Linked DNA regions of Homo sapiens. The protein of the gene in region 1 purifies or fractionates together with the protein of each later gene. This does not show direct contact. Each region holds a gene or a part of one and is shown on either strand. Other genes may lie near its edges.

Region 1 (8,158 bases):
ATCATGTGTTTCTGAGTCGGAAAGGACTGGAGCCCAGTCTCCTTTGAAGACTCAAATCTGAGCCCCCTAAAAAACAAACTGTGTAGAGCAGGAGGAAGACTCACATTTGTTGAGAGGGCCAGGCCCTGGGCTAGGTCAGCTGCCTGAGTTACCTTCCCCCGCCTCCATCACTCACTTCATCCCAGGCACGCTGCCACCTGTTGGTCCCTGGGAAGGGCCAGCCAGCTCTGGTGTGGTTCCAGTGCTGCACAAGTGGTGTGTCTGGAATGCACCCCACACACACACCTTGCCCAGCTGGCTCCCCTTGTCCTTCAGGCACCACCACCCCGCCCCAGCCCCCAGCAATTCAGCCCATCGTACTCTTACAGAAACACCTGGTTTGTTTTTGTTTTTGTTTTTTTAACTATATTATCATTTATTAAATGTAATTAGGTAGCTCTGGATCCTTGGTCTGTTTTTTTTTTCTTTTATTATTATTATACTTTAAGTTTTAGGGTACATGTGCACAATGTGCAGGTTAGTTACATATGTATACATGTGCCATGCTGGTGTGCTGCACCCATTAGCTCATCATTTAGCATTAGGTATATCTCCTAATGCTATCCCTCCCCTCTCCCCCCATCCCACCACAGTCCCCAGAGTGTGATGTTCCCCTTCCTGTGTCCATGTGTTCTCATTGTTCAATTCCCACCTATGAGTGAGAATATGCGGTGTTTGGTTTTTTGTTCTTGCGATAGTTTACTGAGAATGATGATTTCCAATTTCATCCATGTCCCTACAAAGGACATGAACTCATCATTTTTTATGGCTGCATAGTGTTCCATGGTGTATATGTGCCACATTTTCTTAATCCAGTCTATCATTGTTGGACATTTGGGTGGGTTCCAAGTCTTTGCTATTGTGAATAGTGCTGCAATAAACACACGTGTGCATGTGTCTTTATAGCAGCATGATTTATAGTCCTTTGGGTATATACCCAGTAATGGGATGGCTGGGTCAAATGGTATTTCTAGTTCTACATCCCTGAGGAATCGCCACACTGACTTCCACAATGGTTGAACTAGTTTACAGTCCCACCAACAGTGTAAAAGTGTTCCTATTTCTCCACATCCTCTCCAGCACCTGTTGAGAAACACCTGCTTTGAAGTCACATATTGCAGTGTCATGGATTTGTTTGTATTTGAATACTGATCGCTTTCTGACCTTCACTTTCTCCATTAGACTCTAAGCTCCAAGAAGTCAGGGACCTTGTCTGTTTTGCTCCCTACTAGGAGCTTAGTCACAGGCACATAGCAGTTGCTCAATAAATGCTGAATGAATAAGTGAGTGTATCTTGTTGGCACCATTAAGTTAGTAGCTAAGAGCTTGGGCTCCAAGTCAGCAGATGTGGTCCTGACCCAGCAGTGAGTAGCACTGTGATCTCCAGGATGCTGTTTGACCCATCCAAGCCTCAGTTTCCGTTTCTGTAAGAAACAGGATAATTATTATACCTTCCCTGTAGGGCACAATTGGGAGGATTATGAACCATTTCTCAATGGTCCATTTGAGAAAGCATTTAGCACAATGTTTGGCACATGCTAATCAATAGTATGTTAACTGATGTTAACTCATTATTAATCATAGTCTCACAGCTACCATGTGAGTTGCCAAGTCCGTAAAAATCCTTATTTGGCAGATGAAGAAAGAGACTCAGAGCAGGTAATTGACTTGCTCAGGGCTCACAGCAAGTAAGTGATTGAACCAGGCCCCCAGGCGCTGTGACCCCAGACGGCCTATTTTGAGGGGAGCACATCCTATCTCCTGGGCATTACACAAAGCACTTGTGTATTTTTTCCATCTCAATATCCTCAGTGAGATAGACACTATTATCCCTGTTTTATGGATGAGAAAACAGGGTTTAAGGTGAAGCAGTTGCTCACAGATGCCCAGTGAGTCAGTGATAGGATGGGCTCCAAAAAGGGCTCACTGGCTGGGCACGGTGGCTCACGCCTGTAATCCCAGCACTTTGGGAGGCTGAGGTAGGCAGATCGCTTCAGGTCAGGAGTTCGAGATCAGCCTGGCCAACACAGCAAAAACCCATCTCTACTAAAAATACAAACATTAGCCAGGCGTGGTGGCAGGCGCCTGTAATCCCAGCTACTCGGGAGGCTGAGGTAGGAGAATCGCTTGAACCCAGGAGGCAGAGGTTGCAGTGAGCTGAGATCGTGCCACAGCACTCCAGCCTGGGGGACAAGAGCGAAACTCCATCTCAAAAAAACAAAACTAGGCTGACTGCTTACTCCATAACTCTGCCACTGAGCCACATCATTCTCAGAGGTCAGAAAACCACCTTTAGCTTCTGCTGTTTCATGAGGAAGGGAATCTGCAGAAAGGAAACAAAAGCTGAGAGAAAAGAGTGGGGAAGTGGGGTTGATCATTTTGTCTTGTTCCATACTCATGTGTTTTGGGTCTGTTCATTTAAACTGTTTGTGAGCCCACACCTGGTCCATGGAAGGCAGTGAGGCCACGTGCTTGGGAGAGATCCAGACATGGTTGGGACGAGCCTGGCCCCTCCAGGGGTCTCTGGGGCTCCTGGGATTTGAATTCATAATGATCGTGCTTTGGATCTACTTGCAGGGCCCTGGGAAAGAGTCACACCTCTGCCCGTTCTTCTTAAAGGCAGGCTTGGTTCAGGTGTGGACGCTTATGCAGAGGTCTGTTATAGTGGCAGTTGCCACCTGCTGCTTGTGGACACCTTGCCATCATTAGACACACATGCAGCTAGCCTCTGAGGAGGGTGGGGGTTCCAATTCTCCAGGGAAGGATAATGAGGCTCAGAGAGGTTAGATAACAGGCCCAGAGTCACTCAGCTAGTAAGAGGCAATGCAGGGGCCAGGTGCGGTGGCTCATGCCTGTAATCCCAGCACTTTGGGAGGCCAAAGCGGGCGTTCGAGACCAGCCTGTCCAATATGGTGAAACCCCGTCTCTACTAAAAAATACAAAAATTAGCTGGGCGTGCTGGTGTGCACCTGTTGTCCCAGCTGCTCGGGAGGCTGAGGCAGGAGAATTGCTTGAACCCGGGAGAAAGTGAGCTGAGATTGCACCACTGCACTCCAGCCTGGGTGACAGAGTGAGACTCCGTCTCAAAAAAAAAGAAAAAAAAAGAGGCAAAGTAGGACCACGGGAGTCCAAAGCCCAGGCTGTTTTGACTGCGCCAGGTGGGCTTCAGAGGGAAGGGCGCACACTTGGCACGCTCCGTAGCTGGAGAGGTTCAGAGTGGACTTGTTCTTTCTGAGCTCAAGGGCCCAAGCTCCTATGCCCCTTGGCCTGCCCAGCACAGCCCCAGGTGACCCCTCCCCAGCCCCACTCCTCACTGCCACAGTAAAGATGAACATCTGTGTCTTCAGGTGGACCAAGGAGGATTTGGAGCTAATTAACAAGTGGGCCTTCCAAGGGGAGAGAATGATTCACGGGAACCCCTCCGGAGTGGACAATGCTGTCAGCACCTGGGGTAGGTGTGGCCTCAGGTTTATTTTATTGTTGTTATTTTAAAAATTCTTATTACAATGGTAGGTGCCCAAGAGTCTGTGCTGGTTTGGGAGGAATCGAATCAATGGATTCTGGAAAAAATAGCATTTTCCTATTTTGGGGGGAATGGGGAGAAATCTTGGGGCCCTGTCTCACACCCCCTGAATCAGAATCTCCGGGGGTGGAACTGGGGCCTGGGAAGCTGCAGCTTCCACGAGCTCCCCAAGAGAGTTGTAGGTTCAGGATGCAGAGCCGTTGCCGTGGAGTTTGCACACCATCCAGGTGGCCTCCCCTCTGGCAAGAACTCTTGCTTACAGGGCCCAGATGCTGTGTCCTGGGCCCCACCTTCACCATGTGGCTTGTCGGGGGAAGCTGGACAGTCTGGAGGGAGGGGGACCCAGGAATCCAAGGCCTGGCAAGAGCTTCCTGGTGGGGCTTCGGGGACCTTTTGCCCTCCTGCACCTTTTGTAACTGAAGCTGGGCTGACTCATTACTTAGCCTCTTTCCTGAATGGGGCAAAATGAACCCAACCCAAAGTTCAACCTCTCTCCCAAGTAGCACAGATATGTTAGCTTTTCCCACAGCTCTGACCCACTGGTTTTTCTCTTTAGGAGGAGCCCTCCGATACCATCAAGGGAAGATTTCATCCTTAAAGAGGTAACCTGGGGGTGGAGCAGCACATTCAGCCATGGCTGCATTGATGTGTGCAGGGGGCAGAGCTCTGCACCTTTGGGAAGTACCATAGGAGGCAGGTGTCCCTGGCTCTTCATCCCCCAATGTGGCCCTCACAGTGCACTAGCTGCAAGGAAGCAGGGGTGGTGGGGAAGACCTGCTCTCTCCTTCTCCCCTTCAGCTCTTAAATTGCAGAGATATCAGAAAGGGAAAGTCATGCATGGCTGTGCCCGTAGACTCTCAGCTGCTCATTCATTCATTCCTGTATTTGCTTAGTAAACAAGAATCCATTACTTCCTGTGTTCCCGATGATGCTGCACTGGGGCGTAGGAATGGAGAGATGAAGCTTGGGTACAGTTTCCAAGGACTCTCAGTCTGCTTGTGGGGGTGGGGCCAGACACACACAAAAGCCGCCACAGGACAATGTGAGAGTCACCATGATGGAGGCACACAGGGCAGAGGCAGGATGGAAGCGGGAGGGAGGCTTGGGAGGGGCTTGGAGCAGAAGTGACATTTGGAGACTCTCAGCCTGTTTTATGTTTCTGTGTCCCTCCCGCTGGAATCATTGGAATCACAAACGTGCATGTGCGATTTCAGCATTCTCTGTTCTGTTTGCGATTTCAGCATCCTCTGTTCTGTTTGCACCCACGGCAGAATTGTTGGGTGCCTGGAATGAAACGCATGGCAGAGGGGAGCCAGGTGCCTTTTTGACTGTTCCCTAAGCCCTTGATCAAGTTGTGGGGTGGTGTTTGTCCCAGGGCACTTTGCCACCTCCATGGGCCTTTTCGCATCAGTAAGGGTCCTGGGGCTCTCTCCTCTTTACTCAGGGCGGTCTTCATGGATGAGTGGCAGGTCCTGGCCTGCAGCCCCCACCAGCTGGGCCACTCCATTAGTGGCTCAGTAACCTGGCCTGCCACAGCGCCACACCTGGGCCCCCGGCTAGTTCTCTGGGATCTTTCTGTCCCAGCTCAGTCATGCCTCCCTTTCCAAGGCTGTACGTCAGAGTTGTCAGCATTGGCACTATTGAGATTTGGGGCTGGGTTATTCTTTGTGGTGGGGCTGCCCTGTGCATTGTAGCCATCCCCAGCCCCTACCCACTAGATGCCAGTAGCACCCTCAGCGTGGCAATCAAAAACATCTCCAGACATTGCTTAGTGTCCCTTGGGAGGCAGAATCACCCTTGCCGCCGACCTTTGCACTCCGCAGAAGCCAGTAGGAGCGTGGAACAGCTTCCTCGGGTTGCTCCAGCAGTCGTCAGGAGAGCCTCGGGTGCCGAGGTGAAGCTGGTCTGCCACCGCCCCGGATCCATGTGGAACCAGAGCTGGATCATGTGGGGGAGTCTCAAATGCCCGGGCCCCGGCCTGTCTTCAGGAGCCCACGGTCTGATGGGGAAGGCGGTCACTGGAATCGTCAGAGAGAAGACACCTGAAGGGTTGTGAAGCTGCTGTGGGTGACAGTGACAGGCGTCTTAGATCTGGCTGCGAGCCTGGGGAATCATTCATGGAAGTGGTGGCATTTCATTCCTTCAGTGTCTCCTGAGAGCCACTTGTGGCCTAAGCACTGGACTAGGCCCTGGAGCTAGAAAACTGATGAAGACGTGGGCTGGGCACCGAGTGTACGGTCTACTGGGGGCATCAGGAGATGAATGAGGAGGTTTCCAAGGGGGGCGGGCAGGGGAACGGCCAGGGGAATGGCCAGGCGTTGCTGGTGTGCTGGGCGGAGGCGCTGGGTCCACAGGCCTAGGTTTGAGTCCAGCTCTCCCACTTGCCAGCTGGTGCCCTCAGGTGAGTCACTTCTCCCAGACCTCCAGCTCCTTGTTTACTTAGGGGGATCTTGAACATACAATCAGAAGCGGTGGCTCTGAAGTGCTTACCTGTTTGCTGGCCGAGTTCATTCATCCTTTCCACAAGTATCATTAAGCACCTACTGCGTGCTGAGTACTGGGGCCTCCGCAGGGAACAAAACAAAGCCCCGCCTCCGTGGAACTCATACTTTGTTGGGAGAGGAGAAAAAATCAGTTGTCTGTGAGAGCATATCAGGCAGTCTTAAGCACCTTTAGGAAACAAGGCAGGGTCAGAGGCTACAAAGAGAAGGAGGGGTCCGATTGGATGGGGGTTCGGGGGCTGCTGGTGAAGGAACATTGAGCAGAAACCTGAATAAGTCACGCCGCTATGGGGCGGGGCTGGTCCCTGGCAGAGGAAGCGCGGTGCAAAGGTCCTGAGACGAGCACGCTGCCTGCCGTGTGACACAGTAGCTGGGAGGTCAGAGTGGCTGAGTGGAGTGAGCAGCCTGGGGAGCGAGGAGAGAAGAAGAGGCTGGGGCAGTGGCCAAGCCCGGATCACAGGAGCGCTTACCAGGCTTACCCCCTGCGTGGTGGCCGCTGGATGGGTATGAGCCCTGGATCTGGTGGGGCTGGTGACAGGCCTGTCTGCAGAGGACTTGTCTAAGAAAGATGAAGATGCAACACCCAAACTCCTCCCGCCTGGCTAGATGGGAGCATGGAGCAAACCAACCTTTGCTGCCTGCTGTGGGGTGCCACGGGAGCAGATGGCGGCTTCACAGAGAAGCTGGGGGCCAGACTCCACGTTAATCCCATGGATGGCTTAAGGAGCTTCCCCCCACCAACCATGCGTGGTGCCTCTCTGTAAAGAAAAAATGCATTGTTTGTGAAGTGGATCAAGATGCGGCCTCCCAGAACGCTGCCCTTTTGAGGAATGGCTTGTCTTAGAAGGGAAGAGAAAAGCCAAATAGAATGTTCATCTTTTGTAAAGTTAAAAAAAAAAAAAAGCCAGCCTCCAAGGCTGAGAATCGATATTAATTTCATGGGCTTATGGGCAGTGAGATAAAGCAGGTTTCTGGCAGCCCTTTCCAGCCCTATTGGATTTTACAATCTTGAACTGTGAAGACAGCGAATAAAGGTATCAAGGGCTCTGCCCGTCTCCAGCTGTCTCGGGCCAGAGCTCATCCAAATCCCCCACCTTCCATCCCAGCCTGCAGCCCTCTGAAAGGCAGGTTGGATGGCAAGAAATGTCAGCTTGAGCCCTCGAAGACGGCTCACTACAAGGACAGTTGGGATTGTGGCTTTAGGAGGGATTTATGCAGCTCCTCTGGGGCAGGTGAGGACCACGGGGTCATGCTAGAGAGTCAGCTCAACGTGGCTGCCTGGGACACGTCTATGTGCCAGAGGGCAGCCAAGGGGATGACTGACTCTACATCTGGTTTTAGACCAGGGCTGCTCGTCCGGGCACCATTGAGGTAGGGCAAGAATGGGCTCAGCGTGCTGGGGACCATCCTCCTCTGCAACCCTGCCCTCCCTGCATTTACGAGCCCGTGCGTGGCACTGCCCGCACCAGCTAGCCTGGGCATCTTCCCTCTGTGTGATCCATTTCAGGGCCTGTTGCTTGGTCTTTCTAAAACTCCAGCTTCGTGGGGGTGACCCACACAAGTGAACCTTCGCCCCCTCCTTGTACTCTGCTATAGCCACTTTGAATTTCTCACTGGATGACTGTGCCGGGTTCCGCCACCTCCAGGCTCACACAGGCTGCTCCAACTGCCAGAAATCCTCACCCTTCTAGCTTTGCTTGGTGGCTTCTTACCCTTCCTCAGTTCTCAGTGTCCACGTCATGCCAGAAAAACCTTCTCGGCCCTTCTCCCCTATCCCCTCTCTGGCCCCGGCCCCAAGGCCACGCTGTGCCTAGCATGTTGTAGGTCCCAGTTGAAGTTGAATGAATAAATGAGTGAAAAGCCAAGGGAGAATGGCCACCCAACCAGTGCCTGGGATGGAGGCGCAGCTGTGGCCAGCAGCAGAAGCCCCATGCTCCCCCAATCCAGTGTCACCTCTTGTGCCTCCCTTCTTCCTCCGTATCAGGGTGGGCGGCTTCCCGGACTGCTCCCAGTCCTGTCCCAGCTCCTCCATCTTGAGTTCAGTGTGGACCTGCCTCCTCTTCACCCTGCAGGTCGCCAGCTCTCCAGATCCTGC
Region 2 (8,158 bases), about 81 Mb from region 1:
ACTGTAGAGCAAATATATACTAGTCGTTCAAAGTAAACATTTTTCTGAAGCTGAAAGTAATTATCCTTGACCTCTCAGAGTATTTTCCAAGTTTTTCATTGAGTAACAATAATAAGAATCAGTTCAGTTTGGCATCCAACTGACAGTGTGATGAATACTTCTTTAAAAAGGGGATAATAACATCCGAAGCACTATTTTAAATAACTCTAATCTTGGTAAAATGTTCCAATTAAAAGCTACCAAAACTCTAAGAGCCAAATTGTGTTGTTGGAGACCCAGTTGATTTTTTAAAGATTAGTATGTCTCCTTAAAACAGTGCTGGTCCTATATATTATAATCTATTGCAGTTTGTTAATACTCAGCTCCTCCTTTCAAGGTGCTCATAATCTATTGGAGAAGACATAGAAACAGGTCTTTTTATAATAATATGGCTGAGCAGTGGTACAGTTATATACTGAATGCTCAAGAGGAGCACTTGATTTAATCTGCAGGGAGGAAATAAAAGTTTTATGGAGGGTAAAAATGAAGAATTATGAAATAAGAGTGGGTTTTGCCAGTCAGGAAGCAATGGGATTCTAGGCTGATGGTGCAGTATGAACCAAGGCCCAAGACCATAAAATAGCCCACTATGTGTACCAGCCACTTGGTTCTAAAAGCATGAAATGTGAAACAGAGCAGCAGCAGACGAGCTAGACAGGTAAAGACCAGGTCAATGAAAGATGTATATTTTATGCTAAGTAGTTTGAACTTTTATCTTATCTTTTATCTTATAGGCTACAGGGAGGCACTGGAAGAATTTAAAGTGGGAGAATGATATCCATTTTTCACTCCAAGTTGAAAAGGCACAAAACTGGAGGTAAAGAAGTCTACATAAGAGGTCAAGGTAAGCAATAAGAATATTGAGACAAAGATAACAGGTTTGAAGTAAGTGTATATGTTTAAGGATTATTTTTCAGGTAAAATGGAAAGGTTCTGATAATTAAAAAGATGTGAGGTGGGTGGATTACAAGGTCAGTAGTTTGAGACCAGTAATTTGAGTCTGGCCAATATGGTGAAACCCCATCTCTACTAAAAATACAAAAATTAGCCAGGTGTGGTGGTGTGCACCTGTAGTTGCAGCTATTCAGGAGGCTGAGGCAGAAGAATTGCTTGAAACCAGGAGGGGGAGGTTGCAGTGAGCTAAGATAGCACCCCTGCAATCCAGCCTGGGCGACAGAGTGAGACTCCATCTTAAAAAAAAAAAAAAAAAAAAAAAAAAAAAAAAGGTGTGCAAATGAGGACAAAAGGGAAAATCTAGGATGAATTCTCATTCTCTGGACTGAAAAACTTGGCAGATGTTGTATTACAGACATCTCACTGAATGACTATAACTGAAAAAAATATAATAGAAGGAAAAAAGGACTTAGATGAAAAGGTATAATTTCTCTATAGATATGATACATTTGATAATTTAAAATGTCATTATGATTTTATTATCATCTAGATTATTATCAAAGTATTGTAAATAAAAAATTTAAAATGAATGAATGAATCAAAACTAAAGAAGTCAGCACAGAAAAATTTCAGGGTTGTGAAAATAGCCTGCTAAGCTAAAATAGAAATGCTATTTCCTTTTTTAAAAGAAGGGTCAGGTGGCAGTACTAAATTTCTTAAGGAAAATTTAACCACTGATTGTAATGTCTGTGGCTTCTCGGGAAAACATAACCCCAAATTACAGTGGCTGTGGTTATAAACCATTATGAAGAGCTTCCAACGTCAGACATAGTTTGAGTGTCTGTGTGCACTGGAGTTCTTTTACAGGATTTTGCTAGAACAGCAAAATTAATGACTATCCTCTTTTTGCCTACTTTGGTGTCAATAACAAACGTCTTTTCCTTTACTTAACAAAGACTTTTAAGTGACCCAGAATTAATTTAATATGAAAATCAATAAGCCAGGGTCATAAATTTTCCTCTTATTATCTCAGAAAAAAAGTACAATTTACAATCAACACTAAGACTTAGTCTTAACTTACGATCAAGGCCAAAGGAAAACATCTCTCAAGTAAATTCTGAGAATTATCTACCACAATCCTTAGGTACTCGGTTTTCTGTCATAGTTTAACATTTATCTCCTCAGTAAATGCCAGTACTAGCAGAGAGGAAATCTGGAGGTAAATTCTAAAGCAGAAGCTGATTTTTCCCTTTTCATTTCTCAGGAATAATTGAAGTGGCTTAAGTTGCACAATGTTTTTGTGTTGCCATACTAGATCATTTCCTAATTTCTACTGTGACTTAGTAGACAAAGAAAGATATTAACTGCTATTAATTATGGTTGCTTTTTAGTTTTCTTTAAAAGAACATTTGAGTGCTGTGAAGTGACCTAAACCTTAGAATTCAAAAACGGCTTCCAAGCTTTTAAAAAGTCAGTCCCTTCAGTTAATACTCAAAACAGTTTGTAGGTCCCTGGAGAGAGGCTCTTCAGGTCTATGTATCCCAACTAGCTGCCAAACACCTAAAAGACAGAATGAGCACTGACTTCTGCATCTAGGCTGGGGCTCAGCAGAAAGTGGCAGAAGCTGTTGTTCGTAGTGGTGACCTGAGCTTCCTAGAAAGTCTGGATGAATGCCTGGCTACTCAATCATGGGTTACAGGGTGACACAGACAGCACCAATAACTTTAACACTTTCATTATTTCATCTGAAGTAAAACTGTTACGTGTGAAACTATTTACAGTTAATCTAAAGTGGCCATATTCTTTCTAGGTAGAAGATGGACACAATCCATAAAAGAATGTCATAGAACCCTATCTAGAAATTATTTCCTTTTTATTTATTTGGCTTTAAATAACAACTATATGCTTATTAATCCAAAATTTCTATCTCCAGGCCTGACAACTCCCCTGAATTCCATTTCTATATTTCTAACTGCCTACTCAACATTTCCTCTAGGCTCATGAATAAGCATCACACATTTAATACACACAAATTAGATTTTTTAACCCCATGAAACTTAACCTTTTCTCACCTCAGTAAATGAAATTACATCCAAAATCACCATCCATCCAGTCAGTTATTCTGATAGTCATTTGTTTTTTAAAAATCAGCTCTATTAAGGTATTACTTACATATAATTTTCACAAATATTAAGTGTGTAATTTGATATGTTTTGTCAAATATAAGCGCTATCACAATCAAGACATAAAACATTATCATCGCCCTCAAAAAATTCCCCTGCCCTCAGTTATTGTAACTACTGATGTGTCTTCTCTCATATCACTTTTGTCTTCCCTAGAATTTCATATAAATTGACTTATATGAAATGAAAATTTACTGAGTTTGGCTTCTTTCCTAACTATATTGTCTAAAGAAATCCCCTACAACCATTATCAGCTAAATATATAACCCCAAACTTTTTCTTCCTAGCCCACAGCACCACACGGCATGATTTGCTTATCATAGCTCTTTTCCAACTTGAATGTAAGCTCTGTGAAAGCACAGGGGCCTTGACTATCTTGCTTAATGTTGTGTGTCAGAAACGTGTAACAGTGCCAAAACATGGCAGAGGCGCCATAAATGTTACAGAATGGACAATACATAAAAATAACACCTTCTTAAAGTTTTGCCTATAGAACTTATCTATCAGTTTCCTAGGATCATTTCAAACACTAAATGATAAATGACATAAATCTGTACTTTATACTAAGATGAGAACACAGGGAGATGGAATAGAGTAGTGGCAAAATACAAGGCCTCAGGAGTTAAACTGCCTGAATTTGAATACTGACTGTTGACTCCTCTAAAAAGTCACATGGCCTAAAACAAGTTACATAATCTCTGTAAGCTTTAGTCTCCCCATCTGTAACAATGGGGATAATAATAGTACCTACTTCATAAGGTCATTGTGAGGAATTGACATAAAACATCTAAAAAAATTAGAAAAGTGCTCAGCACTTAGAATTAATGATAGTCAATGTTGTTAATTATTGCCATCTCCACCACCACCAGTTCTGCTATTATCTTACTGCTATTATTTTCTGCAGGCAAAGCTACAAAGAAAAAAAAAAACATAAAAATACCTTTTTAGCTAAACTAACTTAATATATTTGCTTAGAATAAAGGCAACTTAATGAAACTTGAACATGGGGAACTATTATTGTTTCCCTTATTGTTATCAGATAATGATCTGTCAGCTTTTGTAATGCCCTTTATTTGAGGGATTTTCCCTAAAAGAAGTAACAAGGACATTAATTATAAATGTGAAACTCAGTTAAAATCCTCCAGGGTATGTACAGAATGAAGAGGCAGTATTTCAGATTCCTATCACTAGTAGCCCAGGGGTAAAGTCTATTTATAAATTATACTTCTAGTCTTGCAACGAAACTAATTTAGGGTAATTAATTAAGCTCATGGGACTTTATACAAACCAATCTGTAGTAATATATTAGTTTTTCCAATTGGCTTTTCCTAGGAAACTAATATGATTAATTAATAAATGATATCTATAAACTTATTTGAAAATTTTGGACAACAAATACAATTAAGTCCTAAAAAGCATCTTCTGGGAAGTATACTCTTCAGGATATTTACTGCATGTTTTCTACATGCCTATTTTTCTTGTAGCTGGTATTTTACAACTAGCATAATTTTCATTTTTTTGAATGATTATAATCAGATACATTATTCATTTACTTTTTCCTTTACCTTGGGAATTTAGAAAAATATTAAAATACCAGATGATGTCAACAAGAGGTGAAACAGGAAAACCCTGGATCCTCTGTCCTTCCATGGAAACACTCAATTTACAACGACGCATGCACAAATACCCTTTGTGGGAAATCCAGAGACAAACTGAAAGGGTCCTTCACCCTGGGCAAGCATGAAACCGGCTATACTGAAACTGGTAGGAAAACTCAAGACCTAACTCTCACCACAATCCCTATCCCCAGTACAGTGCCATATGATCAAAGGAAACCCACAGCTCTCAACTTCTCTGGTGGGAAGAAAGTTGGATTACATGTCCAACCAACCTTTCTAGAAACTGCCCAGGTTACTCGCTTCTGTCTTACCTATCTCAGAGCCGTAACAGGACCTGGCATACTACTGATGCCTGGGGGCCTGTGAGAATAAAGATAGCGGCTTAAATTAACAAGCAAACAGTTGTTATAGCCTACTCTCCTGCCCAGTCCAAGAAAGATGGCAAAAAACCTCAGACTGCAGCCTCTCCCTAGGGAGGGAAAGAGCTGGACTACGTGTCCAAAGTTCGAATTTTTCCAGGGGCTCCTGGGAGACTGGCTTCTGTCTCACCTATCTGCAAGCATTGGAACACCATGTACTATAGACAGCTATGCGGTGCCAACAACAAACACAGCAGTTTGGATTAGCATAAAGGTTTGAGAGGCCCACAAAATCTCTGATTAGGTTGATTGGTGTGGGTCTTCACCAGTACAAGGCCAGTCAGTGAAGACTGTGAGAGGTAGCTGTTATTTCTAATGCATAGAAACCAACATATAGAGTCAAGAAAAATAAATAAGGAATAATGTTCCAAACAAAGAAATAAATGTCCTGAAATCCACCCAAATGATACAGAGATATATAATTTAACTTGGCAGAGACTTTCTAGCAAAACGTGCAAACATTTGTAAGGAAATTAATATAATTTATTCAAGACATGTTTAGATTGTCTTCACCATATTCTGAACCTATAGAAGACAAATTTCAAAGTAGTGTATCATATACTGCATGTTTCTTGTAGACTCTTGACAAATCAGCAGAGAAGTGTGCTCTTTAAAATATATATTTTTCCATTAGGATGACGAATATGTGCTGATTTTTTTCATGCCTTCTTACCCAATTCAAGTGATGAATGGCCCACATCTATGTGAGGTTACAGGAATGTTCGGGGTCATAAAACAAATTTAAATAAACTCTCCCGAATAAGAACTTAGCCAGTGAACTTGACCTTACTGGCATGAAATTCCAACCAACTGAAGTGACAAACATTTTATATGCAATAGGTACTCAATATATATTTATTGATAGGTTACGGTAAGAATTAGAAGGTAATATTGCTTTAGTGAAAAAACGCAAGAAAAAAAAAGATCTGCTACTGTACTACTGTTATTTTAACATAGATGGTACCTACAGATCTGTTTAATTTTTGTAATAAATGGGTAACTGTGTGTTCCTGAGAATAAACAAGTGACATCTTTTAAAAATATAACTTTTATCTTGGATATTAAAAACTTTGAGCTTTTTACGGCTTCATTAAGATTAATGAGTCATAAAAAAAATCTGGGTTGATCTGAAAGGTTAGTCATTTTAGCTGCATTTATAATGTGAATGAACAATTGTAGTATATTTAACAGTTTGAACATGTTAGACTTCTATGAATGTTATTCTTTTGCTTTTGATACTTAAGGGAAGATTTATTTAAGTACTTCTGCCTATATATATATAAAAAGACTAATTCAAGTAAAATAGAACTGTGCAAATTCAATTACAGAAAAACAAACTAAGGTAGTGTTTTTAATTGTCAGATAAACAATCAAAAGTTATTCTGCATGTAGGTCATGCCTGTTGATCATTATGTATCTTTATGAGACTATAGGGAATATTTGTGAGGTTTTATTAATTATTGTTACCAACTATAGGTATAGAGATTTACAAATTAGAATTATAAATTAATTGAATCAAATTGTTTTCTACACAAATATATTATTTTGTATTGATTGAGTCTGTGTGCATGTGTGCGTATGTGTCTCTATGTATGAGAAAAGGAAAAACAACACAGAAAGGTTAATATATTTGCAATGACTAAACATAAATTTTGTTTTGACCTTTTAGAAAATAAAGTAAAAGGGTAAAATGGTCAGTTACTAAGTTTTCAATATCAGAAAGATGAAAGCACATTAAAATATTAAAAATGATTAATTCAAAATATAAACATCAAAATGAAAATTAAAAATTAAAAAGTCATAAATATCTACTAAGGTTGTTTTAAGTAAGATAAAAGATAGAGTAAGGGTACTTCATTTTGAGAAAAATGAGAAAAAAGTAAATATTTACTAACAGTTAATATTACTAACCTGACTTATTTTTCTTTGTTCTTGTATAGCTTTTTGAATTTCCTGAGATACTTTTTCTTGATCTTTTGCATGTTCTGTCTTCCATAATTCCCTTTCTTCAGCATGCGCTTTTTCTAAATTTTTTCTTTCTTCTTCTACGACTTTTAAAACTGCATCCTTCACTGCTTCTTTTTCAAGCTTCAAAATAAATAAAGACCAGAACAAATTTGAAAGACTGCATAATAATTTCTTGAGTAACAGACTTGGTTAACCTAAAAGATAAAAAACTTTGATCCTATAGTGTTTAGTTCTAACATTGCTGTTTTTATGCATAGTAAATAACTGCTACAAAATAAAATCTATTATTCTTTTTTATACAAATATTCCTACTTAATTTCCATGGCATTTCTAATCTTCAAAGAAATCAGGCCTTAGGGTGGAGTAGCAGATTTCAAACTATATGGTCTAAAGATCCCTTTACAATCTTAAAATTATTGAGGATATCAAAGAGATTTTGTTTATGTTGATCATATGTATTAATACATATTAGAAATTCAAGAAAAAATAAAATTATTAATTCATTTAAAATTAATATAATTGCATGATATTAACAAATAATATATTTTATGAAAAACTACTTTCTAAAATTAAAAAAGGAAAATGCTACTGTATGTGTCTGTAAATCTCTTTAATATCTGACTTAACAGAAGACAGCTAAATTAATTCTTATTTCTTCCTTCTGTGTTAAATCTGTAATGATGTTTTTTAGTTGAAGTATATAAAGAAAACCCAGTCTCACACAGATAGGTTGTAGGAAAAACTGAGTATTTAGTAGCCAGTTTAAATAATTGTGGATATTCTTGATGATTTCACATCAGAACTTGACAAGGACTAGTTCTTAAAGGTTAGGTGTCATAATGAAAATAAAATTATGTCAAATGAAATTTTCATGCTATTATATTACAGTCCTTTCTTGCAATCTGAATGAATCATTTATCGATGCATAATTTTTAACATTTTTATGTGAAAAATATTGATTCACTGAGTTACATGTCTTCTCCAGATGCTGACACATTTCTGTATATCATAATTTAAAAATCACATTTGTTAATGT

Evidence for each region.
Region 2: the proteins of MVK (region 1) and CCDC91 purify together in Homo sapiens (affinity purification with mass spectrometry; 3 studies listed by BioGRID and IntAct, with this or other methods). This does not show direct contact.

Annotation. Positions count from the first base shown.
Region 1 is NC_000012.12:109,582,636-109,590,793, forward strand, and holds part of MVK (mevalonate kinase), read left to right. Parts: intron 1-3,386; coding exon 3,387-3,490; intron 3,491-4,118; coding exon 4,119-4,164; intron 4,165-4,455; coding exon of another isoform or gene 4,456-4,530; intron 4,531-8,135; coding exon 8,136-8,158. UniProt on the Homo sapiens protein: Catalyzes the phosphorylation of mevalonate to mevalonate 5-phosphate, a key step in isoprenoid and cholesterol biosynthesis.
Region 2 is NC_000012.12:28,451,562-28,459,719, reverse strand, and holds part of CCDC91 (coiled-coil domain-containing protein 91), read right to left. Parts: intron 7,243-8,158; coding exon 7,066-7,242; intron 1-7,065. UniProt on the Homo sapiens protein: Involved in the regulation of membrane traffic through the trans-Golgi network (TGN). Functions in close cooperation with the GGAs in the sorting of hydrolases to lysosomes.